Homo sapiens: one gene and its partners. The protein of the gene in region 2 purifies or fractionates together with the protein of the main gene of each other region. This does not show direct contact. Each region holds a gene or a part of one and is shown on either strand. Other genes may lie near its edges. The genes, in order: GPAT3, KCNK1, TMEM87A, CPT1A, ACSL4, GPAT4 and COQ8B.

Evidence for each region.
Region 1: the proteins of KCNK1 (region 2) and GPAT3 purify together in Homo sapiens (affinity purification with mass spectrometry; one large-scale study listed by BioGRID and IntAct). This does not show direct contact.
Region 3: the proteins of KCNK1 (region 2) and TMEM87A purify together in Homo sapiens (affinity purification with mass spectrometry; one large-scale study listed by BioGRID and IntAct). This does not show direct contact.
Region 4: the proteins of KCNK1 (region 2) and CPT1A purify together in Homo sapiens (affinity purification with mass spectrometry; one large-scale study listed by BioGRID and IntAct). This does not show direct contact.
Region 5: the proteins of KCNK1 (region 2) and ACSL4 purify together in Homo sapiens (affinity purification with mass spectrometry; one large-scale study listed by BioGRID and IntAct). This does not show direct contact.
Region 6: the proteins of KCNK1 (region 2) and GPAT4 purify together in Homo sapiens (affinity purification with mass spectrometry; one large-scale study listed by BioGRID and IntAct). This does not show direct contact.
Region 7: the proteins of KCNK1 (region 2) and COQ8B purify together in Homo sapiens (affinity purification with mass spectrometry; one large-scale study listed by BioGRID and IntAct). This does not show direct contact.

Annotation. Positions count from the first base shown.
Region 1 is NC_000004.12:83,584,149-83,588,355, reverse strand, and holds part of GPAT3 (glycerol-3-phosphate acyltransferase 3), read right to left. Parts: intron 1,102-4,207; coding exon 1,027-1,101; intron 147-1,026; coding exon 57-146; intron 1-56. UniProt on the Homo sapiens protein: Converts glycerol-3-phosphate to 1-acyl-sn-glycerol-3-phosphate (lysophosphatidic acid or LPA) by incorporating an acyl moiety at the sn-1 position of the glycerol backbone.
Region 2 is NC_000001.11:233,620,035-233,624,241, reverse strand, and holds part of KCNK1 (potassium channel subfamily K member 1), read right to left. Parts: intron 91-4,207; exon of another isoform or gene 23-90; intron 1-22. UniProt on the Homo sapiens protein: Ion channel that contributes to passive transmembrane potassium transport and to the regulation of the resting membrane potential in brain astrocytes, but also in kidney and in other tissues.
Region 3 is NC_000015.10:42,235,292-42,239,498, forward strand, and holds part of TMEM87A (transmembrane protein 87A isoform 1 precursor), read right to left. Parts: intron 2,325-4,207; coding exon 2,141-2,324; intron 1,129-2,140; coding exon 1,029-1,128; intron 1-1,028. UniProt on the Homo sapiens protein: Potential monoatomic ion channel gated by mechanical force, implicated in normal touch sensitivity through the generation of mechanically activated currents.
Region 4 is NC_000011.10:68,838,869-68,843,566, forward strand, and holds the start of CPT1A (carnitine O-palmitoyltransferase 1, liver isoform), read right to left. Parts: upstream 3,049-4,698; 5' UTR 2,907-3,048; intron 1,550-2,906; exon of another isoform or gene 684-1,549; intron 1-683. UniProt on the Homo sapiens protein: Catalyzes the transfer of the acyl group of long-chain fatty acid-CoA conjugates onto carnitine, an essential step for the mitochondrial uptake of long-chain fatty acids and their subsequent beta-oxidation in the mitochondrion.
Region 5 is NC_000023.11:109,681,099-109,685,305, reverse strand, and holds part of ACSL4 (long-chain-fatty-acid--CoA ligase 4), read left to right. Parts: intron 1-1,639; exon of another isoform or gene 1,640-1,819; coding exon of another isoform or gene 1,820-1,942; coding exon 1,943-2,170; intron 2,171-2,409; coding exon 2,410-2,587; intron 2,588-3,930; coding exon 3,931-4,040; intron 4,041-4,169; coding exon 4,170-4,207. UniProt on the Homo sapiens protein: Catalyzes the conversion of long-chain fatty acids to their active form acyl-CoA for both synthesis of cellular lipids, and degradation via beta-oxidation. Preferentially activates arachidonate and eicosapentaenoate as substrates.
Region 6 is NC_000008.11:41,608,879-41,613,085, reverse strand, and holds part of GPAT4 (glycerol-3-phosphate acyltransferase 4 isoform 1 precursor), read right to left. Parts: intron 3,671-4,207; coding exon 3,601-3,670; intron 3,432-3,600; coding exon 3,131-3,431; intron 3,125-3,130; exon of another isoform or gene 2,465-3,124; intron 2,351-2,464; coding exon 2,276-2,350; intron 1,184-2,275; coding exon 1,094-1,183; intron 907-1,093; coding exon 813-906; intron 242-812; coding exon 126-241; intron 1-125. UniProt on the Homo sapiens protein: Converts glycerol-3-phosphate to 1-acyl-sn-glycerol-3-phosphate (lysophosphatidic acid or LPA) by incorporating an acyl moiety at the sn-1 position of the glycerol backbone. Active against both saturated and unsaturated long-chain fatty acyl-CoAs.
Region 7 is NC_000019.10:40,703,202-40,707,408, forward strand, and holds part of COQ8B (atypical kinase COQ8B, mitochondrial), read right to left. Parts: intron 2,247-4,207; coding exon 2,124-2,246; intron 1,981-2,123; coding exon 1,895-1,980; intron 655-1,894; coding exon 514-654; intron 422-513; coding exon 340-421; intron 1-339.

The DNA of each region.
Region 1 (4,207 bases), on a different chromosome or scaffold from region 2:
CAATCTCATGCTGAATTGACCTAGAAAAAGACAGGCACATTGGAGCAGATACTCACTTGTTATGATAATGAATGGTACCAGAGAGGGCTCGCACACAGATCCGGCAGCAAGTCAGATGGACCAGTTCACTCAGCCAGTTTTTGAGGCTGAAGGAAATAGAAACATTTTATTGTGCCATTCTGGGCACTCTTAAGAAACAATATAATAAAGGTTTTAATGTGCTTTTTCACAACAGCATACCACATTCTATTCTGGTGAACAGGTACAGTTCAATTCTTATAGTCTTATAGTCAATTGTTATAGTCTCATTGGCACATTTAGTATTAGATCACAAAAGTCTACCAAAAAAACTGGACATAACTCTAATGAAAAGTGGCTCAAAACCACTAGGCTATTATGACAAATTCCTGAACGAGATAAAGTGAAGCTTCTTTGGTCTTGGTCTTATGAGCTTGCCAATATATAAGACTCTCTTAGGTAACTCAGTTCATTTTCTTTCTTCAATTCTCCTTTGAAAAAACAACTTCTTTCAATTAATATGGAAGTATGATTTAAAAAAATCAAAGACTATGAAGATGAAGTGAGCAGGATTCTAATAAATGAGTAGAGAACATAAATTTAATGCAATGCAGCCTGGTGTGGTAGCTCACACCTGTAATCCCAGCACTTTGGGAGGCCAAGGAAAGCAAATCACAAGGTCAGGAGTTCGAGACCCCCCTGGCCTACATGGTGAAACCCCGTCTCTACTAAAAATACAAAGAATTAGCTGGGCATGGTGGTGGGTGACTGTAATCCCAGCTACTCAGGAGGCTGAGGCAGGAGAATCTCTTGAACCCAGGAGGCGGAGGTTGCAGTGAGCCAAGATCACACCATTGCACTCCAGCCCAGGTGACAGTACGAGACTCCGTCTCAAAAATAATAATAATAATAATGCAATACATAGGAATCAAACAAATATTCTCTTTGTGGACACAGCTAAGAAAAAAGACAGTCCTATATATGGCTGGATGGAAGGAAACATTTCACCTGCTGTCTGGCAGCTGCCCAACCAGTGTAGTTCCTATAACCAGCAAACTGATCCCAATGAAAGCCAAGGTAACCCTGAAAAAGAAAAGAGAGGGCCATATAAGATTTTGACACATAGCATGGAAGTAACCAAAAAGTTCCTAAATAATAAAATTGTAAATAAGTTGTAGAGTATCCACATGATGAAATATGATGCAGCCACTAAAATAACTGGGTAAATCTATATAGATCTAACACGGAAGAATGTTCCACGACACACTTTAAGAGGCAAAAAGCAAAGTAAGTTTCAGAATAAAGTACAGAATATGATGCCATCTGCAAAACAACAACAAACACATGTGTAACAAGTCTGTATATGCATAGAGAAGGCCTGGAAATTTTCACAAAACTATCAAGTTAAATCTATATAATCACCAAAGGGTTAAGAGGGCTAGTGAAGGGAATAGATTTAAAGGTGCTTTCATAATAAGAACACCAAAATATACCACCATGTAGACATCTTTTAATGCAAATCTAACTGTTGTCCTTTTGCATGGTTCAAGATAACTCAGAAGTTAGCAAACAAGGTGACTGACAGTACCTCTAACCTCCATATAGACATTGCCTTCTTTTTGAAAAGTGCTTTTAATATACATTCCAATGACTTCAAAAGGAAAGTAGTAATTTCTAGAAATGTAAATAGAATTATTCAAAAAGGAAAGTTAAGACAAAATCTTTCAAAATAAATAGGATTTAGTTAATAGAGAAGAAAAATCAATAGTTTAATCACATTTTACTAATAAGATTCTTTAAATCATCTTACTTTGTCAAATGGAGAAAGCAGAAACTTTAGATTATCTCATTACTCTCTCAAATCAAACCAGAGGCCTATTTATGTCTTCCTGTTCCCAGAAGAGCACACACGTGTTGCTGAATGCGTGAGGTATTCAATAAGCAGACTGAAGGGGACCACCCCTGCAGTATCAGAAGGACCCTGTGTGTCTGGGGAAGCTACAGTGGTTGCCTAAGGTTAAGGGTCAGGAACAGTAACCCTCTCCAGGGTGAAGCTCATTTACTGCTGACACGTAGCTATCTTTACTTTCTGATCAGATATTTGGAGCATAAAATCGTTTGTCTTAACCAATCCCAGGTTTCACATTAGATGATGATGAAGCAACACCTAACACTATACACCACGCAATATTCTAAGTACCTTTTATATTTAACACATTTAATCATCCCCAAGACTCTATGAGGCAATAATATTATCATTATCCCCATTCTACACATGAAAAAATTGGAGCATAGAAAGGCTAACTAACTCACCCAAAGTTACACAGAAAATAAGCAACCGAGCCAGGATTTGAACCCAGGGCTCCAGAATTCATTTTCATAAGCATTATGTTATTCTGTCTTTCAGGAGATTATGATTTAACATAGCAGTTTAGCATTATTTAAAACAAGAGAAATAAGCAGTGTCTCACGGCTACAATCCCAGCAGTTTGGGAGGCCCAGGCGAGTGGATCACTTGAGGTGGGGAGTTCGAGACCAGCCTGGCCAACATGGTGAAACCCTGTCTCTATTAAAAATACAAAAATTAGGAAGGCATGGTGACACATCCCTGTAACGAGAACCGCTTGAACCCAGGAGGCAGGGGTTGGTTGCAGTGAGCCAAGATTGTGCCACTACACTTCAGCCTGGGCAACAAAGTGAGACTGTCTCAAAAAAAAAAAAAGAAACAGCGTAAAAGGCAGCAATCTTAACCCATTTGGAGAAACACTCCATCAATAACACATCTGAACATGCAGCCCAATGTGTTTAAGAATAATGTGCATATTCTGTACTGATATAATGTACATTATAAAACATCTGGAAACGTAAAAAAAAGTATAAATATTTTTATTTAAAAATACAGTATTTTGAAATTATATTAATGTTGCAATTTGTCCTCACTCAAAATAGGATAATAAAGTAATACATTAATATATATTATTAATTTTATAATTATAACTATCAATTTTATAATTATAACTTAATAACATGATATATTACTATAACTAATAAATATAATTAATACTATTACAATTTTGAGCAAGAAGAAAGCTTTTTGAACATGCTTTCCTATAAATACCTTGATAAATAAGGTGTTAAATTTTGTTAAAGACTTGACATAGCAATTTGAAGGTCAGGTTCTTTTTTCTTGTCAGTTACTGATGCAATAACTAAATTATTGTTTAATCTCATCATCAATTATGCAAAACTTTTAAAATAATGTTTTGCCATCTTGCCCCAATGAGAATCACTTGTTCCCATCCATTAAATCAGAAGGAGTTTCATTTTAACATGTTTAACAATTGGGTTCAAAACTACTGAAACTTTTTATTTGCTAGATTAACAGGCCAGAACATTATGTATCCCAGTTTAAGTGAGGCAATGTTAGAGTTCTCATAGATGACATAAGTTTTCAGCCACAGTCTGTTTTTTAAGAGCTTTATTGACATACAATTCACATGCCATACAATTCAACCCATTAAAATGTGTAATTCAGTTCAGGCACTGGCTCACGCCTGTAATCCCAGCACTTTGGGAAGCCAAGGCAGGCGGATCACTTCAGGTCAGGAGTTTGAGACCAGCCTGGCCAACATGGTGAAACCCCATCTCTATTAAAAATACAAAAATTAGCCAGGCATGGAGGCACATGCCTGTAATTCCAGCTACTCGAGAGGCTGAGGCATAAGAATCGCTTGAACTCAGCGGGCAGAGGTTGCAGTGACCCAAGATTGTGTCTAAGTGATGGAGTGAGACTCTATCTCATCATAAAAATAAATAAATAAAATAAAGTATGCAATTCAGTAGTTTCTGTCATATTCACAGAGTTGTGCAACCATCACCACATTGTATCTTAATACAATCTGGTTTTTGAAAAGCTCATTTTGTAGTAGGTGCTTCTTTTAAAAAGCATTTACAAAGCAGTTCTTCCACACTGAAGAGTATCCACTAAGAGTAGGAGTCTGAACTCTGCATTTTCTTTTTGTTCTTGGATGCTTATATCACTGCACTTGATCTTAGCCCAAAGGCCAAGAAGTAATAAATGTTTACATTGCTTTATTATCTTAAATCATAGTTTCTTTGCAAAAATATTTTAAGTCACTTATCTATTTTGTGAGCATTTGTTTAGTAGATAAGGGAATCATAACAGCAT
Region 2 (4,207 bases):
CTCCTCAGTGCATACTTCCACCAAAGACTCTTCAGACTCTATTCAGACGAAATGATGAAACCATTGTCTAAATAAGCCCCAAGAGGCTTCAGTGAAGCAGAGTGAATAGGGAACTGGGGCATCGACTTGAGTAAATAGCTTAACTCAGGTCACAGAGCCCCCCACATAACAAGAGATGACCGTAAACAACTGGAGCCTCCAACTCCAACTCTATTGATCATACTCAGAGAAATGAAACCTAACATGTTTTACTCTCTCTAAATCCCTTAGAAACATTCTACCTGCTTTTGTTTTGTTTTTTGACTTGAATAGTTTCAGGTTTACTTTCTTTTTTTTAAAGAAAGCTTTTTTGGCAAGGTGCGGTGGCTCACGCTACCTGTAATCCCAGCACTTTGGGAGGCTGAGGTGGATCACCTGAGGCCAGGAGTTCAAGACCAGCATGGCAACCAACATGGCAAAACCCTGTCCCTACTAAAAATACAAAAGTTAGCCGGGCATGGTGGCATGCGCCTGTGGTCCCAGTTACTCAGGAGGCTGAGGCAGGAGAATCACTCGAACCTGGGAGGTGGAGGTTGCAGCGATCTGAGATCACGCCACTGCACTCCAGCCTGGGTGACAGAGCGAGACTCCGTCTCAATAACAAAAAACAAAAGGTTTCTTTCTTCTTTTTAAAACTGACACGTAATAATTTTACGTATTTATGAGGTACACAGTGATACCTCAATACACATAATGTACAGTGATCACATCAGGGTAATTACCATATCCATCATCTCAAATGTTTATCATTTCTTTGTGTTGGGAACATTTAATACCTTTCTTTTAGTGACTTGAAACTATATATTACTGTTAACTATAGTCATTCTACAGTGGTATAGACAACCAGAACTTATTCCTCCTATCTAGCTGTAATTTTGTATCCTGTAACAAATCTCTCCCCATCCCCCCTCCCCGTACCCTTCCCAGATGCTAGTATGCTCCATTTACTTTTCACTTCTATAAAGCCAACCTTTTTTTTTTCTTGCTAACCATTTCCATTTGTTTTCATTATCTTCCATTGTTTCTTTTTGAAAAGATAATCCCAGAAGTTAGTGCATTAGAAAAACTGTTTGAGATTAACTTTTTTTAGCTTCCACATATGGGTGAGAAAATGTTGTATTTAACACTCTGTGCCTGGCTTTCTGTCCTCTGAATGCATCAGCCATGATTTCACCGACTCTCTCTGAGTTCCCTGAGAGCTTTCTGCCTAAAGCCCTTCCATGGGTACTAATAACTGAGTCTCAGAGGCAGCAGCGGGCAGGCTTTTATTTCACAAAGTTGGTCAATCCCAGTCAGAGGAGCTAATGCAAAAAGTTAGACTCTGATCTGGGATCAAGCAGACGGTAGCAAATTAAAAACACTCCCATGTCTAACCTAAGCAAATTAATCTCATCAATATAACAATCAGCTGTTTTCCAAATTAAAGAAGGCAAACATGAAAACCAGTAGAAAGTCACAGATAAGCCCTTCTGATCTGACTCAAGTTCAAGGAGACAATCCCACAGTCCTTTCAGGTGCACAAACTCTACATCTCCAACTCCCTATTCTCTTTCTTCCTCCATTCAGCCTCAGATCGGGGGCATCACCTTGCAATATGCTGCTGACAGAGAGTGGGCCACCAACTTTGGGGATTGAACAAAAAATAAGGGATCCATGCAAAAGAAACAAAGAAAGTCAGAGTACAGACTGAGTCTAGGAGATAGAAGTATCACAGGAGTCAATAAAACACCTCAAAAGTTGCTTGCTTTCCAATAAAGTGACAACCTTTATCTCCTGCCTTGAATAAGCCACCTGGGCATGACACAGTCAATGGAGAACTTCAGCACCTTAGTATTTCACGGATTTGTCAATAATACAATTGGAAGATGTCTTTGGAGAATAAAAGCCAGCAGGTGCAACTCTGAGTATGTCAGAGTATATGAGGCAGATGAGATTTCTGTCCCTGAAACCAACCTTGTAGTAAACTGAACCTTCTGGAATTGCCATTTTTATGGGTCAAAACAATTGAGTGTCGGCAATTCACATGCTCCAAAGACAATAGACACTCACACACAGCAACAGTCCAATGAGCAATGTCATAAAACAACTTGTTCTCAAAGCACCGGAGTTCCCAATAGGTTACTGCTTCAATCAAAGATTCTGTTCTTGATAGGACTTACAGTTATGTCATAAAAGAAGAGACATCATTTCTTCCAAGTTATTGATAATAGTAGCAGTATCTTCCGGGGGCTATAAAATGACAGTCACACACAGTAACACTCCAATGAGCAATGTCATAAAATAGCTTGTTCTGAGAGCACCAGAGTTCCCTTAGGATACTGGTTCAATCAAAGATTCTGTCCTTGATAGGACTCACAGTTATGTCATAAAAGGAAAGACATCATTTCTTCCACGTTATTGATAATAGTAGCAGTATCTTCCAGGGGCTATAAAATAGGCATAGATAATAACAAATTTATAGTTAAAAAAAAACCCCAAACCTTCAAAATACTAAAAACTGGTATGTTTTATAGACAGGTATGAGTTCACAGATTTAAACACTAAGAATCTCTTCTCTTTGACCATTATTGGGTGGAAATGTTTCTAGAATTTATTATACACTTCCCTGCCTTCTTAAGTAGAAACATGTTGAGATATTTTTCTTGATGATTCAAGGACGTGGATTACTATATTGCGCTCTAAAACAATGACATCCCATTCAGGTATATAAAATTGTTCGTTGCAAGACTAAAGACTTAAAAGATTCTGTCTCTTGTCCTCCACTATTTGTATGGGTTTTGTGCAACTAAATAAAAACTATCATGTACCTCTATATTAGTTTGCTAGGGCTGCCTTAACAAAATATCACCAGTGGGTGGCTTAAACAACAGAAATTTATTTTCTCAAAGTTCTGGAGGCTTCAAGTTCAAGATCAATGTGTCTGCAAGCTTCATTTCTTCTGAGGCCTCTCTTGGCTTGCAGATGGCCACCTTCTCACTGTGGCCTCATTTTATCTTAATCACCTCCTTAAAGATGTTATCTATAAATACAGTCACATTTTGAAATACTGAGGGTAGAACTTCGACATAAGAACTTGAGGGAGACGATTTGGCCCATAACAAGGTCTGATGCCCAGATGCTATTAAAGCTCAGGTTCTTAGACATAACTGCATTCAAATTAAGACCATGTCACTTCCGGCTTTGGGACCTAAGTAGAGAAGTTGTTCAACCTATTAATTTCCGTTTCATCCTCTGTAAAGTGAAGACAATGATACCTATATCTCATCAGTTTATTGCAATGCATGGAAATGAATATGTGTAAACATTGCCTGGCACATATAAAGGGTTCAATAAAGATGTTATTTTAAAATAAAATTTTAGTTTGGAATTTTTTAACTATTTATCTTTTTATAACCTGCCATGTCTATTTCCCCATAGCTGTGCCTTTCCCTCTGTAATTTCTTATATTATAGGCTTGAAAACCAGATAATTAAAACTTCTAGAATTAAATGTAAAGGCTCAAAATCAAGACCTGTGAATACAGAGCACAAACATCAGAATATGGGATTTTGGATCTCTCTTCTGGCTAATACAGAGTTTGCTTGTTTAATTTTATGTAAATTCTATAGTAGATATAATTTAGTATTTATTGCACATTTTAGATAAGATAATCACAATGTGAAGTGTAGACTGTCATCATTAAAGGAAAAAAAAAGCAGTGACACAAATTGGATCACAAGTAAGTGGCATCTGAAATAAACATTTGTTTTGAAAGTGGTTGGTGGTGATACATAATTTATTCAATGTTGCATACCACTTAGAACAACAGCACAAAGAAGTCTGAGAAGCTGAACTTTCTTACACAAAGTTTCCCAGAAGAAAGTGAAATATTCAGAATACTCTTAGCGTACCTTTCAAGTATCATTCTGAAGCAGATGTCAGCAAACTTTTTTTGTGAGACAGTAAATATTTTAGGTTTTGTGGCCACATGGTTTCTGTTCAACTATTCAACTCTGCCACCTTAGCCGCTAAGCAGTCATAAATGATACAGAAGCAAACAGGTGTGGCTGCACACCAATAAAACTGTGTTTATGGACAATGAAATTTGATTTTCATAAAACTTGACTGTGTCAGAAAACATTCTTTTTCTTTTTCTTTTTTTTTGTCCCAACCATTTGAAAATATAAAG
Region 3 (4,207 bases), on a different chromosome or scaffold from region 2:
GCCTCCCAAAGTGTGAGGATTATGGCGTAAGCCACCACGCCTGGCCTTCATGACTTTAAATAATATCTTTATCTTCATGACTCCCAAACTTTTATCTCTGCCCCAACCTCTCCCCTTTGTTTCCCCTACTTAGTTATCTAATTCAACTCCAATCTTGCCCCTGCTCCACACTTATTTCACCTAAGGTCTTCCTGAACTCAGTAAATCTTCAATTCCATCCTGCCATTTTATCAGATCAAAACAATTGGCATCATCCTTAATTCCTCTTCTCTTTCCTATCATACATCTGATCCATCAGCAAATTCCACTGGTTCCACCTTCAAAATATATATAGAATCTGATCTCAATTCAGCATCTCTTCCCTTGGGTATACATATAGCTCCCTCACCTCCTTGAAGTCTCTGCTTAAATGTCATTAAGTGAAGCCCTCCTTGATCACCCTATGTACAACTGCAAGCTCTAGCTCCTGCATTACCTGCTCCACTGCACTTTCCACTGACATATTAAAATATTTTACCCACTTAAATTTTGTCTTTGTCCCCTCCCTCCACAAATGTAAGCTCAAAATCTTCTGTTTACTTGCCATATCCCCAGGGCCTAGAACAATGCCTCAAAGAATGCCTATAGAAGACACTCCTCAATAAAAATAAAATTTTTTGGATAGAAAAATATTTTCAGACAGTTACAGCAAGAATGCGTTTCCCATAAAAAATCTAATTTGCAAAAAATATTTTGGAAGTATGGAAATATATTCGGAAGTATGGAATACATTTGGATTTGGAAGTATGGAATACATTTGGACTTGGAAGTATGGAATATATTTGGAAGTATGGAATATATTTGGAAGTATGGAAAATGAAACACATTTTCCCAACATTTACAATGCTACAAAATTTCAAATACCTTTCTTGTTTCAGAATTATTTCTTTTATCAACTATTTCAGAACTACTACATTGGGAACATGCAATACTGTTTTAATTTAATCAGCATTTTAATTTGCTCTTCCATACAGGAAGTTAATACTTACTTGACGATGCCATATCCCAGACTGACTATGATGACCAGGGTTCGAGCCAGTGAGCGTTTCACTGCTGAAAGCAGCTCTGCAAGGATCAAAGCACCCTGGACTATGAAAAAGAAGGGAAGAAATGGCACCATAATCTAGGTTTGGCAACAGGCCAGATGCCAATACTAGACTGCTGCTTTCTACACTCTTCAGAATAAGCATTGATATTAGTCCTGCTAAAATAGAATACCTCTTCCACAGTTTTTACAGGATACAAGCTGATGCCACTCACAATCTTACTCATGTCTATGTATGGCAATCTGGGTGCGCTCAACTCAGCTCCCTCCCCGACCTGGCCCCAAATTCACTAAAACTTTAACAGAATACCTCACCCTATATGGACAGTTTGTAGCATCGAGACAATTTCCCCCATTTTTAAAAACTGTGAAATACAGCTACACATAGAAAAGCACAAAACACACTCGTGTACACGCTTGTTGGCATGTACAGCTTAACTTTTTTCAGATCTACTATTTTCAAGACCTTTCAAAGACCAGGGAAAATCTTATCAGTTTATCTCACAATAATAATTATGACTAAATTAAATGGTCTGACAAGAAAAAACTGAAGCAATCACAAAAAACTACAGTATAAAACAACTTCTGTCATTACCAGTTCACCTTACTAAACCATAAGCACTCTCCTATTTTCTTGATATGACTATATTTTATCAGTTAGATGCACTTTCCCACCACATTTTGAGGTTTTTTAAATCAAGGTGTGTCTTACAATCAGTGACATTTTACAATTAAATTGACAGCTTTACTTTTTTTCTTAGATGTATAATGGTGCCTTAGAAATCAACAGAAATTGAGATTTGATGTTAATAATCATTCCCAAAATGGTCACTACTGTTGTGACTTTTGTGAGCATATTTCAGTAAAATTAGTCTTACATCACTGAACTCATAAGATTAAAAACAAAAGTCAGAGTCATAGTGATTCTGCTTAAGATATTGTAATAATTAAGTAATTGAAAAGTTAAGCCTATGTAGTGACTGCTGACCTTAGGAATATTTTCATACATCTCACCTTCCAACCACTCGAACTGGCAAAGATTTTCTGGTTACTTACCAGATTCTCCTTTGTATCGGATATTCTGAAATTCCGCATAGAAGACAGCTTTCTCAAGCATTCCCAGGAAGATGACAGCACCAATCCAAAACTGAATTCTCAGGAGATCTCTCCAGTAGCAGGCAGACCATGCCAGCCACAGAACACCAAACAGGACATATACAATACACATCACCATGAAAAACTGTTATCAAATTGGGTAAAAGATAAAAAGGAGAATTAGGGCCAAGAGCCAAGTCTGTAGATTTAGAATCAATATATACTTTTTTTTTTTTTTTAAGAGATGGGGATTTGCTATGTTGCCTAGGATGGTCTTGAACTTCTGGACTCAAGCAATCCTCCCATCTCTGCCTCCCAAAGTGTTGGGATTACAGGCATAAGCCACAGCGCCTGTCCTGAATCAATATACAGTCTTAACAAGTTACAAAAATATATTCTACCTTCTAGTTAAGAAATAATTCTTCCTTTGGAGCTTAACATTAACTAATATGAAAGCATTATCTTGTCTTGAGCAGAGAAGACTACATATGAACTTGTCCTCAAGAGCGAATGCTCTCATATGTATATATATATATGTGTGTGTGTGTGTGTGTGTGTGTGTGTGTATGTATGTATCACATATGTATACCATATAAAAGGTGCTCTCTATTATACACACAGACACATATATGGTATATATAGAGAGCACTCAGCCTGCTCTCCTATAGTAAAAGAGCTTTTTCTGGTCAGGCGTGGTAATTCACACCTGCAATAGTGCTTTGGGAAGCCGAGGCAGGAGGACTGCTTGAGGTCATGAGTTCAAGGCCAGTCTAGGCAACATAGCAAGACTCTGTCCCTACAAAAAATAAAAATTAGGCCAGGCATGGTGGCTCATGCCTGTAATACCAGCAATTTGGGAGGCAGAGATGGGCAGATTACTTGAGGTCAGGAGTTCAAGACCAGCCTGGCCAAAACATGGTGAAACCCCGTCTCTACTAAAAATACAAAAATTAGCCAGGCATGGTGGTGCGCACCTGTAGTCCCAGCTACTCAGGAGGCTGAGGCAGGAGAATCGCTTGAACCCAGGAGCTGGAGGTTGCATTGAGCCAAGATCGTGCCATTCCACTCCAGTCTGGGTGACAGAGTGAGACTACGTTTCAAGATAAAAAATAATAAAATAAAATAAAAATTAGCCAGGCATAGTGGCACACGCCTGTTGTCCTAGCTGCTTGGGAGGCTGAGGTGGAGGGTAGCTTCAGCCTGGAGTTTAAGGCTGCAGTGAGCCATTATCCATTATCATGCCACTGCACTCCAGCCTGGGAGACAGAGTGAGACTCTCTTTTTTTTTTTTTTTTTTTAAAGAAGGAGCTATTTCAGCTCACGATCTAAAATTATATAGATGAAGACAACACTGAAGAAGAAAAATGGCATGATGATTAGGATACATCTAGAGGCAAGGAAACACAACAAAACGGGAAAACTATTAAAGGGAAAGGAAGAAGAGAATAATCATGAACAAAGAAAATTGAAAATATATTAAGGATATTCTGAGACACAGACGTATGCACACATACATGTATGTGCACACATACACACATACACACACAAAATGAAGAGAAGGGAGCTTCATCATTTTGTTAATTTTTTGTTGTTGAGACAGTTTCACTCTGTCGCCCAGGCTGGAGTGCAGTGGCAAGATCTCAGCTCACAGAAGCCTCTGTCTCCTGGGTTCAAGCAATTCTGCTTTAGCCTCCCGAGTAGCTGGGACTACAGGCGCCTACCACCACGCCCAGCTAATTTTTGTATTTTTAGTAGAGATGGGGTTTCACCATGTTGGCCAGGCTGGTCTCAAACTCCTGACCTCAAGTGATCTGCCCGCCTCAGCTTCCCAAAATGTTGGGATTACAGGCATGAGCCAGGGCACCCAGCCTCATTTAGTTAATGTAAGTGGGATCAGAAACAATAGAGTTGTAGTAAAAAGTGCCCCACTATGCATCCTAGAGAGAATGTGAGATGATCTTTGAGGTATTTCCACAGGTCACTGACCCCTTCATTATATGGATAAGAAAATGAGGCACACAAGGGTAT
Region 4 (4,698 bases), on a different chromosome or scaffold from region 2:
ATCTGTGCCTCTTTAACTTTGCATCGTATGCTTATATCGCTTATTTGTAAAAACAAAACAAAACAAAAGTCTTCACAAGAAAAGCTCAAGACTGGCAGAAGACAAGTGAGGCCTCTTTAAAGTGTGTTGGAGAGATTCTCGAGAGATTCTCTCCAACACACTTTAAACAAACAATCTCGAACAGCCATTTTAATTCTTAAAGCACCAATTCTTCCGGAATTCAAGTTCAGGCTTCCACCAGCAACAGAATTCTGGCCTGCCAATAATAACCATGCAGAGTGACTAAACATTTTTTCCAACAAAGGAAAAAATGCAAACGATCAAAGTGCAGAAGCAGCCCTTGGCCCGCGCAGGCTCCGGTTTCCGCCTCCCGCCGCCGCTGCCACCGCCCCTGCGCCTTTAGATTTCGGGCAGCAAGTTTAATTGCTCGCTTGGAAAGCGTCCTCGGAAGGGCACCGCCAGCAACTGCGGCTTCGCGCCCCGCCCCTTCCCCCAAGCCCCGGGCGGCGTCACGTGACGGCTGAGAAAAGTAGGGGAAAGGTCAGCAGCAGCCCCGCCCCCAGGCTGGCGCGTCCCAGGCGCTCGGATCCTGTTCCACCCGCCGTGCCCACAGAGACCTTCCGGAGCGAGTTGGCGCGCGTCCCTGTGGCCACCCCAGCGACAGCGGGAGAAATGCAACGCACCTCTCCGTGGGAAGGTCGAGCCCTGCGGTGCCCAGCTGTGGGGACAGCTCGGTGCTCAGTGCTTCTGATGACAGATGCTGCATCCAACGAGCCAGAAACGCAGGCACCGCGCTCAAGAGCCCAGGGCGCGTCTAAAAGGGGCTCACTGTGAAGCCTCAGTGAAAACTGACGGTGTTTTTATGAATGAGCACTCGGGGCCAGGGTTGGGTAAGGGCAGGCCCTCGTTCCAGGGCTCCCCGGAGGCCCAACTTGACCGCTCGGTGACCACTGGTCCGGGGCCGGGGCCAAACGCAGCAGCCGCAGCAGTATCGGAAGGGACCCAGTTTAATTCTCTTCCCCTCCAGGGTAGGCGGCTTGTTTTTAGTACCAACTCGAAACGTTATTTTGGCCTGTGCATGATGCCAACTTCTGCCACTTTGAAACAAAGTGTGTGCACTCCCAAACCTGGCCCTTTTTATTGTTTGATTCCAACTGTTAAGATAGGGTTCAAGTGCAAGGTCTAGGCTAGCAATGCTTCACAGGAAGGAAACCAGTAATTTACATGCGAAAAGCAGTCCACAGGCTCTTGGTATTGAGGCAAAACCAATCCAAAGAACCAGCTGCGAATGCTGATAGTCCCCAGACCAACTGACAGCTGGATGTTCGCTGGCCTCAGCGGTGTGCATTCTCAGCGACACTTATGTCCTCAATTTATTGCTACGTTCACTCGGTCAGAGTCGCCTTAAAGAATTTGGAAAGGCCCGGGGGTGGGGGTGCTTCCTGGCATAAATAGAAGACCAGTGCTCAGCCATTTTTTATTCACTTGGTTTGTGGCTTAGAATGAAATAAACATGCTTGCATATCTGGAATGACCAGAAACCGGACACCTGTGGAAGAAAATGGTGTAACAAAATACAACGTTGCAAAAGGTAAAACCGATTTTCATTTTATTCGGTAACTTACAAAGTTACCAGCTTCCTACTAAAATCTGCCCTTAAATATTTTATAACACACGGAGCCGAGAGGAACCGAAAGCCTGTGCCGAGTTGGGAATATTAACTTTGTTATGTATTTAACCTGGTAGGTAGTTGGGATTTTTAACTCTCTGAGTTGTTTTCTTTTTTTAAAGTAAGATCGGCCCTCATCTTTGAGTTCTGCGGCTTTAACGAAAGCCAAGGGCGGATTTACATTATAAAGACGCTGACCCATGGCCTCTCCTGACAAACCGAAAGAAGCCGGCTGTTGGCTGGCCGCGGCGGTGGCTCCGAGAAGGGGCTGCCCCGCGTGGCCCTGACCGCACCGTCGGGCTCGCAGGCCAAGTTCGCCAGGGCACGGCCACGTGACACCCCCACCCTCCCGCGGCCCCGCCGCTCCCAGCCCGGCACGACCTTGGGCACATGCTCCGCGCCCACCCGCCCTTGACCCAGCGCTGCACGGGAGAGGCTGCGGGGCGCTCCCAAGCAGGCACTGGGCCCGGCACCCTCATCCTGCTCACGGCAGCGCTCGGACCGCGCCTGGAGTCCCTGCGCCAAGGGCGTGTCCCGACGGCTGCACCGCGAGGGCGGGCATGGGGAGGGGGACCGGGGAGACGGACGCTGGGATGGGGTCAGCGGCGCCCTGCCGAATCCCGAGGGCCGAGCACCCCTCCCTCAGCCGCACTGCACCTGCCCGTAGGTGACCAACCCACGGGCGGACCCCCAGACCCAATCCTCTCCAGAGCCAGGGTGGGATGGGCAGGGACAGGAGCCGGAGGCCCTACTGGCCCCGGGCGAAGGCATCCTGGAAAGCATCCAGAGCGTCCAGCATCCCTCCCGCGGCCACCCGCAGGCTGACCGACCCCTGGGCAGACCCTCAGACTCAATCCAGTCCAGGGCGGATTAAGGAGTGGGAGACAAGGGAGCCGGTGGCCCCGCTGGCCCCGGGCCGGAGGCGTCCAGCCAAGTCCGGAGGGCCGAGCATCCCTCCCGCGGCCGCACGGGACCCGCCTGCGGATGGACCGACCCCCGGTGGACCCTCAGACCCAATCCCCTGGGGAACATGGGGAGCCCCGGCCTCTTTCTGGGTTCAGGATCTCCACAACCCCGCCGTCCGGGGGGAATACCGGGGTTCCTCTCGGCGCCCCGGTTCCGGCGGCGTCCCCCACCCGGTCCGGTTCCCGGCAGCCCCGCGCCCCGCCCGTCCCCGGCCCCCGCAGCCCGCAGGGCCGCCCCGCCACCCTCCCCACCGCGGGCGACCGGGCCTCACCGAGTCAGCTACGGAGGTGCGGCAGCGGCAGCGGCAGCGGCGGCGGCGGCGGCGGCGGTGGAGTGAACGAGCGGCGAGCGGGAGCCGGGGAAGGAGGGCCGCGGGCGAGGCCGAGCGCACCCGACGCCGGCAGCAGCGGATTGGCTGAGGCGGGTCCGGCTGCGGCGCCTGCAGGCGGGTGACTCCCGGCGCGCGGAGGGCGGGCCCGGGGCCTCGGCGGGGCGGGGCGTCCGCGGGGCTAGGAGGGGAGGGAAACTGAGGCTCGAGCGGGTGCTCGCGTCCTCGACCTCTGCCGGAATGGGGTCTAGGACGAGATTCCTCACCCTCCGAGCCTCAGTTTCCTCATCCGTAAAACGAGCCATCTCGTGGAGGCCGTGCGCATAAAATCGCTTAGCTCCGTGCCTGGCTGATCCTCGCGACTTATCTATCGGCATTGCCCCGTGTAATGCTCCAGGCACCCCCTGATGGTATTCACCCCTGACTCTTTCATGCAGACAAGGGTCGCGGGCCAGGAAATAAGTTACCCCACATCACCGAGCTGAGAAGCAACCGATCCACAGGGAGTGGTGGGGCGCGCCTGTAATCCCAGCTACTCGGGAGGCGGGAAGTCGCTTGAAGCCAGGAGTTCGAGGCCAGCCTGGGCAACGTAGCGAGACCCCGTCTCTAAAAAAAAAAGCGCGGGGAAGTGATAGATCGGACATTGGGTCCAGATCTGATTCCACAGCCCATGCCCCAAATCAGACCTTATACCACGAGTGGCAGTCATCGCGATCCAGAGGCAGCGTGGCTCCTCCTCATCTAGCTAGGATAAAAATGCCTCACTTGGGGGGCTTTGGTGAGATTTACTAAAATAATTCTTCCAGCGTCAAGAACATAATAGGTGCTGGGAGAGGAGTAGCTGGAGGCCAGGGCAGAGCGACCGAGAGACCCTTGTGCTGGAGCTCGGGAGAGGGGCCGGGAGCGGGAACTGAACATCCACCGGTCCCAGGAGTCTAGGGCGAGCGCAGCTGCAGGGGACCCAGGGGGTTGAGGGGGAGGGAGAGGGGCCCCAAGCGTAACAGGAGGGCCAAGGGGGTCTTCCTGACCGGGAGCCACCCCTCCCCTATCTTTGCCCGCAATGCTTCCAGGCGCGAGCTGGCGGCTCTGCATACAGCAGGTGCTCCATAAATGCACCGATGTTATGAACAAAGACTCTTTTAAACCTCTTTTATGAACCCTGCTCTTTTTAAGTTCGACCACTTCTTCTAGTTATGAAAAAATCCATGTTTGCAACCATCCTTCTTTCTGTATCATTTAGTTGTTACCGCAGAAGAATTTAGAAGAGAAAATGAAAGTTCTCCTTTGATCCCGCCCCCCACCACCGCTGCAGTTAACTCTCCCTGCGGTTCCCGGGCTCGCTGTTTTAAAGGAAGGCTAGGATGCAAGCTGTCTGTAAGGCTGTTTTGTTTTCACTTGGCTTACGTCGTAGACAGGTCTCTGCTGGGGGACGGAGATGACCACCGGCCTTCCCAAGGCTGCATAAGATTTCCTTTGACTATGCTGTGATCCATTTACGCGGCCCCCATTGGACAATTAGGGCCTCCTCCCCGCCCCCCACCCCACCATTGCAGGTATAAATAAAAGCTGCGTTGGCCGTCGATGTACCTCCTGGAGCTCCTGATTATCCTGTAGGATAGATCCCTGGAGGGGAAGCAACCAGGCACGTGCGACATTTTGGTGACACAGGCCAAGCTACCATGCCGAAAAGTTTACCAACTTCCACTGCCACCCGCGCGTGCAAGCGGGGCCCTGT
Region 5 (4,207 bases), on a different chromosome or scaffold from region 2:
TGAGCAACAATGGCAAAACCCCGTCTCTACAAAAAATGGAAAAAAACTAGCCAGGCATGGTGATGCACATCTGTGTTCCCAGCTACTCGGGAGGCTGAGGTGGGAGGATCTTTTGAGTCCGGGAGGCAGAGGTTGCAGTGAGCTGAGATCATGCCACTGCACTCTGGCCCGTGTGACAAAGTGAGACCTTGTCTCAAAAAAAAAAAAAAAAAAAAAAGAAAGAAAAGAAATATTACTATTCTTGAGCCTGTTTCTGCGGTTTCTTTCCAATGGCACTGTTTTTCTAACCTGCAGCAGCCCCCAGCTTTCCACATAATCCAATCAAAATTACTTTGCCTGATTTGTTAGATTTTGTAACTACCGTAGCGTATTTAGTCAAGCGTATTTAGCGTATTTAGTGTATGCTGTGCCCCAGTCAGACTAGTGTCCTTGCTATTGGTACTTCCTATTCTCCCAAAGTCCTTTCATTCCCACCTTCGTATCTTTTTTCATATGGTCCCTGAGCCTGGAATACCTTCCATTCCTCTTTCATTTCTAGATGCCCAACATAAGGTCCAGCTTAAATCTAATCTCCACAAAGCCTCTCCTAGTTACTCTTGGCCATTTTGCACTTCCTCTGAACTCCTTTTGCATTTATTGCTTATACTACTGCCTACACTGCACATGGTAGTTATGTATTAGTTATGTATTACCACAAGGCTTTTCAGTGGAAATGCTTTAGTGGTCACCTTGGGAGTTGGGATTCCGGGAATTCTGGGGCAGGACTCTGGACATCCCCAAACCCTGTTTTGGCCAGAGCAACTCCACTTTAGTGTTATATATGGGCAGTTTCCAGTAGTGTTTATTAGAAGAGATGGTTTAATTGCACCCCCTGTCCCCGTTCCCCCAAACAGTTGCAAAAATACTGGATCTATCTTGTGTGATAGTTGACTCATAAGTGTTAACTTATAATGGCCAAGGGCCAGGAATTAATACTACTTCAGACTTGTATTACCACTCCTAGGCAACTGGTGCAGTTTTGAGCACAAAGTGGACATGTAGGAAATGATTTTACAATTGTATTGCTCCCATGTGGGAAATAGTAGATAGTAAATAGCATTACCTGAGAAATTTACCTTAATGAAGAACTCAGAATAAGGTTTCTGGGTTGACCTTTGAGAAATAAATCTAAGTTGATAGTTTCTGCCCCACCCCCCCCTTTGGATATAAACCTAACACTATTTAAAGATGTCTAGTTTACATGCACATGTTTAAGAGAAATCTTATTATTGGCATACCCTATTCTACCAAAGTTTTGACAAACTTAAATATCATATTCATGCATTTGTGTAAGCATTAAGGTTGTTATTCAACTCACAGAATGATATGCAGAGTACCAGTACACCTAGAAACCTAGAAAAAAATAAATTCAGAAGTTGATGTGCTCAAAGACATTTACGTCAATAATGATTACAAATGGAAAATGCCAGCCTTTCAGACCAGTTATTTCAGCTTTCTGTAATTAATTGTGTAAACTAATAAAGACCTGAGTATTTAAATCAATTGTGCTATCAACTTGTTAATATTCTTTTGTTTTTGTTTTTTGTTTTTTGTTTTTATTTTTCCTGCTCTCTGCTTGGTTCATTGTCATCACCTACAGGCGTACTTTATTGTCGGCTTCCAAAGATTACTAACTTTTATCTGTATCACTAAGATTGAACTGCCTTGGCTGTACTGCTATTCTTACTGCTGCTTCTATTATTGCCTTCTTCAGCACAATAAGGCTTTCAAAAGCCAAAGAATAACAAGAAATAAGCACCATTTTAGAAGCCTTTCCACTATGAAACTTAAGCTAAATGTGCTCACCATTATTTTGCTGCCTGTCCACTTGTTAATAACAATATACAGTGCCCTTATATTTATTCCATGGTATTTTCTTACCAATGCCAAGAAGAAAAACGCTATGGCAAAGAGAATAAAAGCTAAGCCCACTTCAGACAAACCTGGAAGTCCATATCGCTCTGTCACACACTTCGACTCACTAGCTGTAATAGACATCCCTGGAGCAGATACTCTGGATAAATTATTTGACCATGCTGTATCCAAGTTTGGGAAGAAGGACAGCCTTGGGACCAGGGAAATCCTAAGTGAAGAAAATGAAATGCAGCCAAATGGAAAAGTTTTTAAGAAGGTAAAGTATTTTGGTGCTTTTCATTTATGTTTTAAAGAGGAAGACACATTTGTTTTATCATAAATCGAGTGCGTTTTAAGTATGCTGGCATTCTATTATAGTGCTGTGTAAAACTACTCAGAAGCCGCTCATAGCTTCTGTATGTTCATTTAAGAGCATTTTTAGAGTTTTATGCTTTGGATAGTATTTTAATTGCTTGTTTGAATATACTAATATTAGAGAATGTATCACTTTAACAGTTAATTCTTGGGAATTATAAATGGATGAACTATCTTGAAGTGAATCGCAGAGTGAATAACTTTGGTAGTGGACTCACTGCACTGGGACTAAAACCAAAGAACACCATTGCCATCTTCTGTGAGACCAGGGCCGAATGGATGATTGCAGCACAGACCTGCTTTAAGTACAACTTTCCTCGTAAGTGCCTTGTGTTTTTGGAGGGGGGAGAGGAGGGTCTTTGCTTGCATGTGAGAATTGTTTTGAGATGCTCTTGTTTTCACAGTAGGTGTTGTTTAGCCATTTTACACATTAATTATGTCCATAATACGGCATGTAATATTGTGGCTAAAAGATATCCGATGACTCCTGTTAAGTATGGTAACTTGTAAGAACTAATATGGGAATTGGCAGCTTTAAGGGATGTGATTTACACTTTTATTTTCCAATTGGAAATGAATTGTAACTGAAAGAGTTGGAGTTTGGGGGTATTTTGGGGGGGTGATATACAAAGAGTAATGATTAAAAGAACAAAAAACCATTTCTCAGGATAATTCAAATTCATTGCTTCACTTTGAGACCTCTTATTTGACTTATTCTATTTTACGTGTGAAATATGCATGTGACAGCTGGAATTGGCATTAGATATGTTAGAAAGTAAAATTGAGTATATTTCTAATACTCAAGCATTTGTTGTTGCCATTGTTTAAGAAATAAACAATGTATTGTCACATACTAAGTACTCTGTTGTTTGTTGAATGAAATATAACACTGTAAGTTAGGATTATAGAGCTTAAATTTCAAACAAAAAATAGATAATATGAAAATGATCCCCTATGTACCCATTACCCACTTTCAACGATGAACAGCTTGTGAAAGTGGCTATTTTTAACCACATTGTTTCTGGTTACCAATCTAGAGCTGAATTTTCAGTTCTTTCTAAGTTTAGCAGATGTCCTTTGATTCTAACTGATCTTGGTTTATGTTATCTCTGGTGGCTCCTAAGGAGTAGATCTCCTTGATCTCTCTAATTAAGGTGTGGAGGTCACCAATCACATTGGACATTGGACTCACTAAAACAGCTTCTTAGAAGGAGTAAGAACATTATCTGTGGCTGATCTTATGACTTAAGATCCTCAAGATTTTCAAGGACTTATCCATTCTTTGGAGGCTATGGCCAATGAAAGTGTGTATCAAGAAGAAGCCCTAGCTGGGCCAGTCTGACCTGAATTAAGAGTTCAGCCAGTACCTATTGGCCTTGAGCATCTAAATTGACAGATTTTTGATCAGCTGTGGCAGTGCGAGTGTTTCTGGGTTTCTTCAGGTTTAGGAAGTGAGAGTTCTGGGAATTTGTAAGGAAAACTTTGGGCTCCCAGGGAGTTTGAAGCAAGGTTGAAGGATGGTAACAGAGACTATGAAATCAAATTAAAATATACAATGTCTTTGTGTCTCTAAGTGTAACTATTATTAAAGACTGACTTCAATAATATCCATTTCTAATAGATGTTTATTACTTAATATTTGTGTTTATTTTTATTATGTAGTTGTGACTTTATATGCCACACTTGGCAAAGAAGCAGTAGTTCATGGGCTAAATGAATCTGAGGCTTCCTATCTGATTACCAGTGTTGAACTTCTGGAAAGTAAACTTAAGGTAAATATGAAATTTTCTTTTAATTCATGGTTGCGTTGTCTGGCAGGACAGAAAAATATTCATTCAGTAAGTGAATTTTTGTTGCAGGCTTAAGTTTAATAGCTGTTTTTTTTTCTTTCTGCTCAACAGACTGCATTGTTAGATATCAGTTGTGTTAAACATATCAT
Region 6 (4,207 bases), on a different chromosome or scaffold from region 2:
ATTATTATGAAAGCAGTATAGGCTTATGATAGAAGGCACGTAACTGCACTGTGGAGGGATAACTACCCTGAAACCTTTTCAGCATTCTAACTGGCCAAGCAGAACAGCAGTGTTCTGTCCATTACCTCTTAGCCACCAGGTGGCGATCCTTCACTTCCGAGCGCTCAAACCAGACGTGTGGGCAGGCCTTCACCATGGCTCTCTGAATCACACCCATGAGTCCCCCGTGCACTTGACCCACCTAAGCGCAGGCACAGGACTCATTAGTAGTGAAGCCATCTTCACACGAATCTCCCCACTCTAGGAAGAACCACATCTCACAAAATAAGCAGTCCAACTTCTCACTTCTAACGCTTGCCGGCTGAAGGTTGCTCACTGCCAAGAAACCACTACCAAGACTCCCCAAATCTTAAACTTCTCCTTTTAATCAGTAATACTAGAAATAGGTAATTAAAAACATAACTGAAACCCCTAAGACAAAATACTAAAATACTAAAGTAGCGCAATTCCCTGTGTAAAACTGCCCCTCCCTGGGCAGATTCTCAGATGCCCTGGACACAGTCCTTGCCAGCAACTCCCTCTGCCCCTGCTGGTCTGCCTGACTGCCCTTGGCATCCTCTCCAGCCACACTCACCAATCACTCTGCCCAGGGTATCTCCTATCACAGTCCCACAGAGCCCCCACAGTGACAGTAAGGTGGGGGCCTGGCCCACGCATAAATGTGTTTATGTGAAGGGTCCAGGAGCCTCCTAGCCCTGACCACTCTAAAGCAGGAAGTCTTGCCTCAAGAACGCACCGGAAAGAGCTCTTACCATGGCATAATAGCCATCGCTGGCCAAGATGATCACATCGATCGGTGAGGTATGATTGGCCACACAGATGCCACCATTTCTTGGTCTGTTTTCCCTGGGTTTAAAATGTATGCAAAGCAACCAAAATTAGTGTGAAACAGTTCATGTAACACACCTCTCACCTCACATGCTTCATCTGCTCTAACTAAAAGCTCAGAAGTGTCTTCCCATTTGGCTAAGTATAGGTGGGTGGTGTTTCCTGCAGCGCCATCTCCCTTCCTATCAATACAAAGCGCTCTCACCTGTCATGGTAGGTGATGATGGCTGTCAGCGCTCGCACGCAGATCCGGTAACACATTAAGTGAACATGTTTACTCATGAACTCCTTAAACCTGCAATAACAGGACAAGGATTCTGGGTTTTATTTTACATACAGGAAGACAGAAAGAGTTACTGACTTCAACAGCTCAGCAGTCCTTTATAACAGCAAAGTGCTTGTATAGACATCAGCACCTACAGGAAAGTCCTGTGATGCATGAGCACCTTTATGTTCACACATGAGGAGAGAAAGAGGGGACAGGGAGACTCACTTACATCCACCCAAATCAGTGGGTGGAGAATTCACAGCCTAGAATCCGGCATCCGCAGACCACAGGCGGGCTGAACTCCGTTCCCCCAGTCAACATCCAGAGGCAGGTCCAAGGCCAGAGGCCAACCTCCTCACCCGCCCAGGCAGAAGAAAGGTTTCTAAACCCCAGAACTTCCCAAAGGGAGCAAAATATTCTTCACACAAACAGACAAAACCTCCCTACATTTCAAACCATTTTAAAAACTGTATTGTCTCATCACTTTATCCACACAGTCAAATGCTCAAAACTAAACAACAAGCTGTAAAATCTGTTAACATCTGAGTCTCGGACTCTACATGTCTGTGGCTCCTCCCTTTTGTCTTCAAAATGGGAAGAATGTGAGGGCTGAAGGACAAAAAGAACAGTCATAGATCAAAATTTAAAAAAAGTAAAGACTTTACTGCTGATGCCGTTGTTGCCATTGGGTTGTTATTATTATTTGAGATGGAGTCTCGCTCTGTTGCCTAGGCTGGAGTGCAGTGGTGTGATGTTGGCTCACTGCAACCTCTGCCCCCTGGATTCAAGGATTCTCCTGCCTCAGCTTCCCAAGTAGCTGGGATTACAGGCACCCGCCACCGTGCCTGGCTAACTTTTGTATTTTTAGTAGAGACAGGTTTCGCCATGCTGGCCAGGCTGGTCTCAAACTCCTGACCTCAGGTGATCCACCCACCTCAGCCTCCCAAAGTGCTGGGATTACAGGCATGAGCCACCGTGCCTGGCCACCACTGGGTTATTTAATCCATCTAAGATTCCATGGCTTTGGTTGTGTCCAAAGAAGTGTCCTTGCCTTCGATATCTGAGCACCATTCCCAGAACTAACTGTCCTTCAGGCATGGACTGCCACACTCTACTCACCTCCCATTTGGCAAGTATCCCACCACAGTTGTGCCCACCACCAGAAGGCTAATCCCTGTGAAAGCCAGTGCTATCCTGTAAGAAGAAGAAAAGTTAGAGCACAGCCAGCAAATCATTCTACCAAGTACAGAACTGAAGGTGTGAAAATCAAAGGGGGCATCACAAAAACCACCCCCAAGACCTGCTCACCTGGGACCTGGACCAGAGTTCACCTAGAAATGTAAGCAGGCCTATCAGAACCAGAGATCCTTTTGATTCCAGCTGACAGTGAGCCATGGGTCTGGCTCTCAGCTGCCTGCATCTCCTGAGGCCTCAGGCAGCTGGAAGGCTGGAAAACCCTAAGCTGGCCATTCTGCCACAGGGCTGCTCCCTGCTGCCCTCCCCTTCCCTTTGGCTGGAAACCCCGGTGGAAGCACAGCTTCCCTCTGAAGCAACAGGAGGTGGAGCTTGAAGGTATTAGCATCTGGCAAGGCACACTCAGAGCAGCACATGGTGCAGAGAAGCTGAAAGATCAATACTGCCCCTGTACCTGAGAGGCAAGCTTCAGGAAAGAATGAGCCATGTCCAGGAAGGAGTGGCAGAAAGCACACAATGTTCCCTGTCCCTGTGTTTGCTGTCATCTAGAGAAGCAAGCTGTCTTTAAGAAATCCAACTATTTCTGTCTGATATGCAGAGAATCCAAGGGCCTCTAAAGGAGAATCACCAGTGTATCCCTCCAAAGAGTCACGTGGCCTGGCTAACGACAGTCATTCCCTCCTCCTTTCTAAAACGGGAATACACAGCAGAGCAGGCAGGTGGGCTGTGCACCACGTGGGGTGGCAGCAGCGAGCCCCACTCCCGCAGGCCCTGCCTCACCTGAGCGGCAGCAGAAAGCAGTACCGAATCAGCACTCCTAACCCCCACAGGACCGTGAGCCGAAGGCTGATGTACTGGAAGTTATAATTGGTTCTGCTCAGCAGGTTCCAGGACTCCAGTTCTTCTGCTGAGAATCTCTTTGTCACCTCATCATCCATAATGGTCTCCATTCCTTTCCGGCAAAAGTAGAAAATGTCAGAGAGCTCGAACTCTGGAGTGTTGTCCAGAGCCTTACTACTACCACTTCGACGAATCTCTTTGATCTCTTCTTCTAGTGAAGTGGGATCCTTTGCAATGATTCCTGCAAAAGAATGTGTCCCTGTCAAGCAGCACGCTGGGGGAGAGCACGTGAGACATACTCAGAGCACACATCCTGCACTAATGCAGGGAAGAGCGTGTGTGGCACCAGAAGCACTGGGGAACACTGTTCAAATGGACCTCTCAGGACAAGGATCACACCCCCATCTTACCGTTGGTGTAGGGCTTGTAAAGCTGGTGGTTCTTCTCCTTGGCTCCTCGCTCCATTCTCAAGGTAGCCCACTGGGAGGGGAAGGAAGCAAGATACAAGAGCAAGAATGAGACCTGTTTTCAATCAGTGAACACCTCCATCTCTATTCTGTGAAAGCCTCAGTCCCAGTCACCTAAGACCGTAGCCAAGAAGCACATAGTCTAGAAGGAAACTCAAACCACCTCTCCCCAGAGCAGCCCCTTCCTTGACAACTGGGACCAAGAGTTAAGTCACCTATAGCAAAACACTGGGAACTTCAAGAAGCTGGGGCGAGTTCCTCAGGCCTAGTTCCTCACTGCCTACGTCTCTCTGTCTCCGGGCTGTAGGGAGCTCACTTGCTGACAGCACAGACCTCACGATTCCTCCTGCACTGCCGCACGGCAGCTACTCAAAACAGCGAAGCCAGGTATCCTGTAAACTACTGCCTGCCACCAAATTACTCCAAGAAAGCAGCAATTTTCATTTTAAAGGAGACAAAGAGCTTAAGTAATACATATGTTTGGACTGTCCAGTAACAGGAGTAACATTTTAATGGGAGAATCCCACAACTTAACACTGAAAGGCCTGGG
Region 7 (4,207 bases), on a different chromosome or scaffold from region 2:
TCTAGGCGCCTCCTCACGTGCCATCCCCAGGACTGTCCTTTTCTGCTCTGCCGCACCTACAATCCCGCTCCCTGCATGCACACCCTCTGAGAGTCTGCTGCTGTATCTTGGCCCTGGGCTCCCGTCTCTCTAAGGCTCTGTTAAAATCCATAAGGCTTTTCCCACACCTGCTCATGCTCCCTGGGCTCTCCCCGCCTTGGTGTCCTTTCTGTCTCTGACACTCCCGCTCACAACGCCAGCACACCCTGCCCGTGCTCTCCTCTGGGCTCCCCCTCCTGCTTTCTCTCTCTGGGCATAGCCCCTTTGGGAGGTCAGCAGAGGAGTGGGTGGGCGCCTCACCCGCGGGCAGGGCCGCGCTCATCTTGAGTACCGCCAGCAGGTTCTGGACATCGCTCTGAATGCTCTGGGCTATGCCGGGGTACTGTAAAGGGAGAAGGGAGGGAGAGAAGGTGGGAGTCACTTCTCTGGGCTAGCAGGGTGCCCGCCCCTACCCTGCCCAGCCTCCCCTCTCACCTGGATCTTCACGGCCACCTCCGTCCCGTCCCTCAGCAGGCCCTGGTGCACCTGCCCAATTGAGGCAGCGGCAAAGGGCACCTCCTCCAAGGAGGCCACCTTGGCCTGCCAGTCCCTGCCGAGCTCCTCTTCAAGAACTCTCTGCGGGGAGTGGTCACAGCCATCATCATTGTGGCAGAGTTCATTCCCCAGGCTGAGTGCTTTACGTGTTGATAACCCCAGCACTCACCACATGCAGGGCCCTGGGCTAAGCTCTTGGCTGCCACCCCCTTTGCAGATGAGGAAACTGAGGCTCAGAGAGAGCTCCCTTGTGCAAGTGACTAGCCAGGCACTGGCAGACTGTGAGGCTCAGCCTAGCCTGTGTCCCCTGAACCTGGACTCCCTGGGCTGTTGTGGGGATTGCTATTATTTATAGTTAAGACTCATAACAATCCTTTTTTTTTTTTTTTTTTTGAGACAGGGTCTTGTTCTGTAGCCCAGGCTGGAGTGTAGTGGCACTCTCACGGCTCACTGCAGCATCAACCTCCCGAGCTCAAGCCATCCTCCTGCCTCCTGAATAGCTGGGACTACAGATATGTGCCACTGTGCCCAGCTAATTATTACTGTTATTATGTTTAGTAGAGACAAGGTCTCACTATGTTGCCCAGGGTGGTCTGGAAGTCCTGAGCTCAAATGATCCTCCCACCGCAGCCTCCCAAAGTGCTGGGATTACAGGCATGAGCCATTACACGTGGCCAACCATCCTTTATTATGCTCTTATATGTTATTATTAACTCACAGTTACTGTGATCAAGAAGAGCTAAAATTTACAATGGGCTTCCTGTGGGCCAGGTCCTATTCAGAGTGGCCCAGAGAGAGGCAGTACCTGCCTGGGGCCGCATGGCGAATAAGCAGAACAGGGATGGGAGAGCAGGTGGGTGGCGGAATCCTGGATTCCATGCCTTACCCAGTTATTAGAACAGCTCATGTCCTGGGCACTTACTTGGTGCCAGGCGCCGTGCCAACCTATTACAGACACGATCTCCTTTAATTAAAAAAACAGTAATAATCACAGCTAACACCTGCATGTTGCTCACAGTGAATCAGGGGCCGTTCTCAGTGCTCAGTGTAAACTGATTTATGTGACCCTATGATGTGGGTGTGGCTGTCACTATCGCCATTTCCCAGGGAAGGGAACTGAAGCACAGAGAGGTCAGGCTGCTGTTCCCTGTTTTAATCACCACAGCAATGCTAGGAGGTGTGTACTCTGGTGATTCCCATTTTACAGATGGGGAAAGTGAGGCTCAGAGGCAGGGAGTGGGGCAGTGAAGCCAGGAAGGTCAGGCAGGTCAGAGGAGATGGAGCCTGCCTCCCTCACCGCCCTCCCCCACTGGGCACTCACCAGCATCTGCCAGCGGGGCATGAAGTCGGCGCTCTGGCGGACCCGCTCAAAGATGTGCTGCAGCTGAGGGCTGATGAAGCTGTTGTCTTGGGAGACAGTGGAACCAGGGGGGAAGTAAGCGAAGAGGTGAGGAGGGACCCCGTGTGAGTATCTGAAGTTGGGGCCTGTTGGTGGGTAGGGCTGGGGTAGAAGGGAGGTCAGGGGTCAGGAGTCGAGGGTCATGCTGTACCCTGGATGCTGAGCATCTGGCCAACCTTGAGGGCGGCCCCTCGAACTGTACATAAGGTCTGCACAATCCGCTCGGCATTGGCCTCCGACAGGAAGGGGCTGGAGTCCAGCCCAGAACCACCCTCTGGGGAGAGAACAACCATTAGAATTATAACCACAAATATCATCACTGCGGCCAGGCCCGGCGGCCCACGCCTGTAATCCCAGCACTTTGGGAGACCCAGGCGGGATGAACACAGGAGTCTGAGACCAGTCTGGGCAACAGTGACATCCTTTCTCTATTAAAAAAAATATATATCATCTGCACACCAACAGGAATGGCTAAAACGAAATACGGAGGCCAGGCTTGTTGGCTCGCGCCTATAATCCCAACACTGGGAGGTCAATGCAGGAGGATGGCTTGAGTCAAGGAGTTCCAGACCAGCCTGGATAACAAAGCAAGACCCTGTCTCTAATTAGCTGGGTGTATGGTGGCATGTGCCTGTAGTCCCAGCTACTCAGGAGGCTGAGGCAGGAGGATTGCTTGAGCCCTGGAGGTTGAGGCTGCAATGAACTGTGATCGCACCATTGCACTCCAGCCTGGGCAACCAAGCAATACCCTGTCTCGGGAAAAAAAAAAAAAAAAGAAAAGAAAGAAAGAAAAATAAACATAAGTTAAAACAAATTGCAGGAGAGTCAAAGAGTAACTACTACAGTATTGAATAGATGAGCTATCACTACACACAACAGCCCAGGTGGGTCTCAAAAATGTAATGCTGAGTGAAAGCAGCCGGGTGCATGAAATCATCACCCAGTTACACTGATATAAAGAGCAAAACAAGGCCAAACAAATCCAGGGTCCAGGAGCCAAGACAGAGGTCACCCTTGGTGAGGGGAGTGACCAGGTGGGGACATGAGAAGGGCAACGATTCTCGAAATGTGGGCCAGGGACCCCTGAGGGTCCCTGAGACCATTCAGAGGGGTCTGAGAGATCAAACTATTTTTATCGTAACATTAAGATGTTATTTTCCCCTTTCTGCTCTCATGCGTCTAAGAACATTCACTGGAGTTCTCCAGAGGCTCCAGGACATGTGAGGACACCATCAGACTGACAGCTGATGGAATGTGTACGTGTGTACTCTTGTGTTTTAAAAATATCTCTGTATTTTTGTTGTGTTTTTGAGACAGTGTCTCACTCTATCACCCAGGCTGGAGTGCAGCGGCACAATCATGGCTCACTGCAACCTCCTGGGCCCAAGTGATCCTCCTGCCTTAACCTCCTGAGTAGCTGGGACTACAGGTATGCACCACCATGCTTGGCTAATATTTTTACTTTCTGTAAAAATGGGGCCTCGCTATGTCACTCAGACTGGTCTCAAATTCCTGACCTCAAGGGATCCTCCCGCCCCAGCTTCCCAAAGTGTTGGGATTACAGGCGTAAGCCACCGCACCTGGCCTAAAAATTTCTCAGTTTTAATTTCTAATATGGTAGACATTGATAACTATAATCCACATAAATAAGCTCTTTGGAGGCTCATTCTAACAGTTTTATTGAGAAATAATTCACATACTGTTATAATTCACCATTTAAGTTATATAATTCAATGATTATTAGTATATTCACAGAGTTGTGCAAGCATCACCAGAATCAATTTTAGGACAGTTACACCACGCAAAAAAGAAACCTGGCTGGGAGTGCTGGCTCATGCCTGTAATCCCAGCACTTTGGGACGTCGGGGCGGGATCACTTGAGTTCATGAGTTTGAGACCAGCCTGGGCAATATGGTAAAACCCTGTTTCTACAAAAAATACAAAAATTAGCTGGGCATGGTGGTGCATGCCTATAGTCCCAGCTACTCAGGAGGCTGAGGCAGGAAGATCACTTGGACCCAGGAGGTAGAGGTTACAGTGAGCCGTGATCCCGCCACCGCACTCCAGCCTGGGTGACAGAGTGAGACCTTGTCTCAAAAAAAGAAAAAAAAAAAAGAAACCCTATACCCATTAGCAGTCACTCTTCATTTCCCCCAATCTCCCCAGGCCTTGACAACCACTAATCTACTTTATGTCCCTACAGATTTTCCTATTTTGTACATTTCATATTAATGG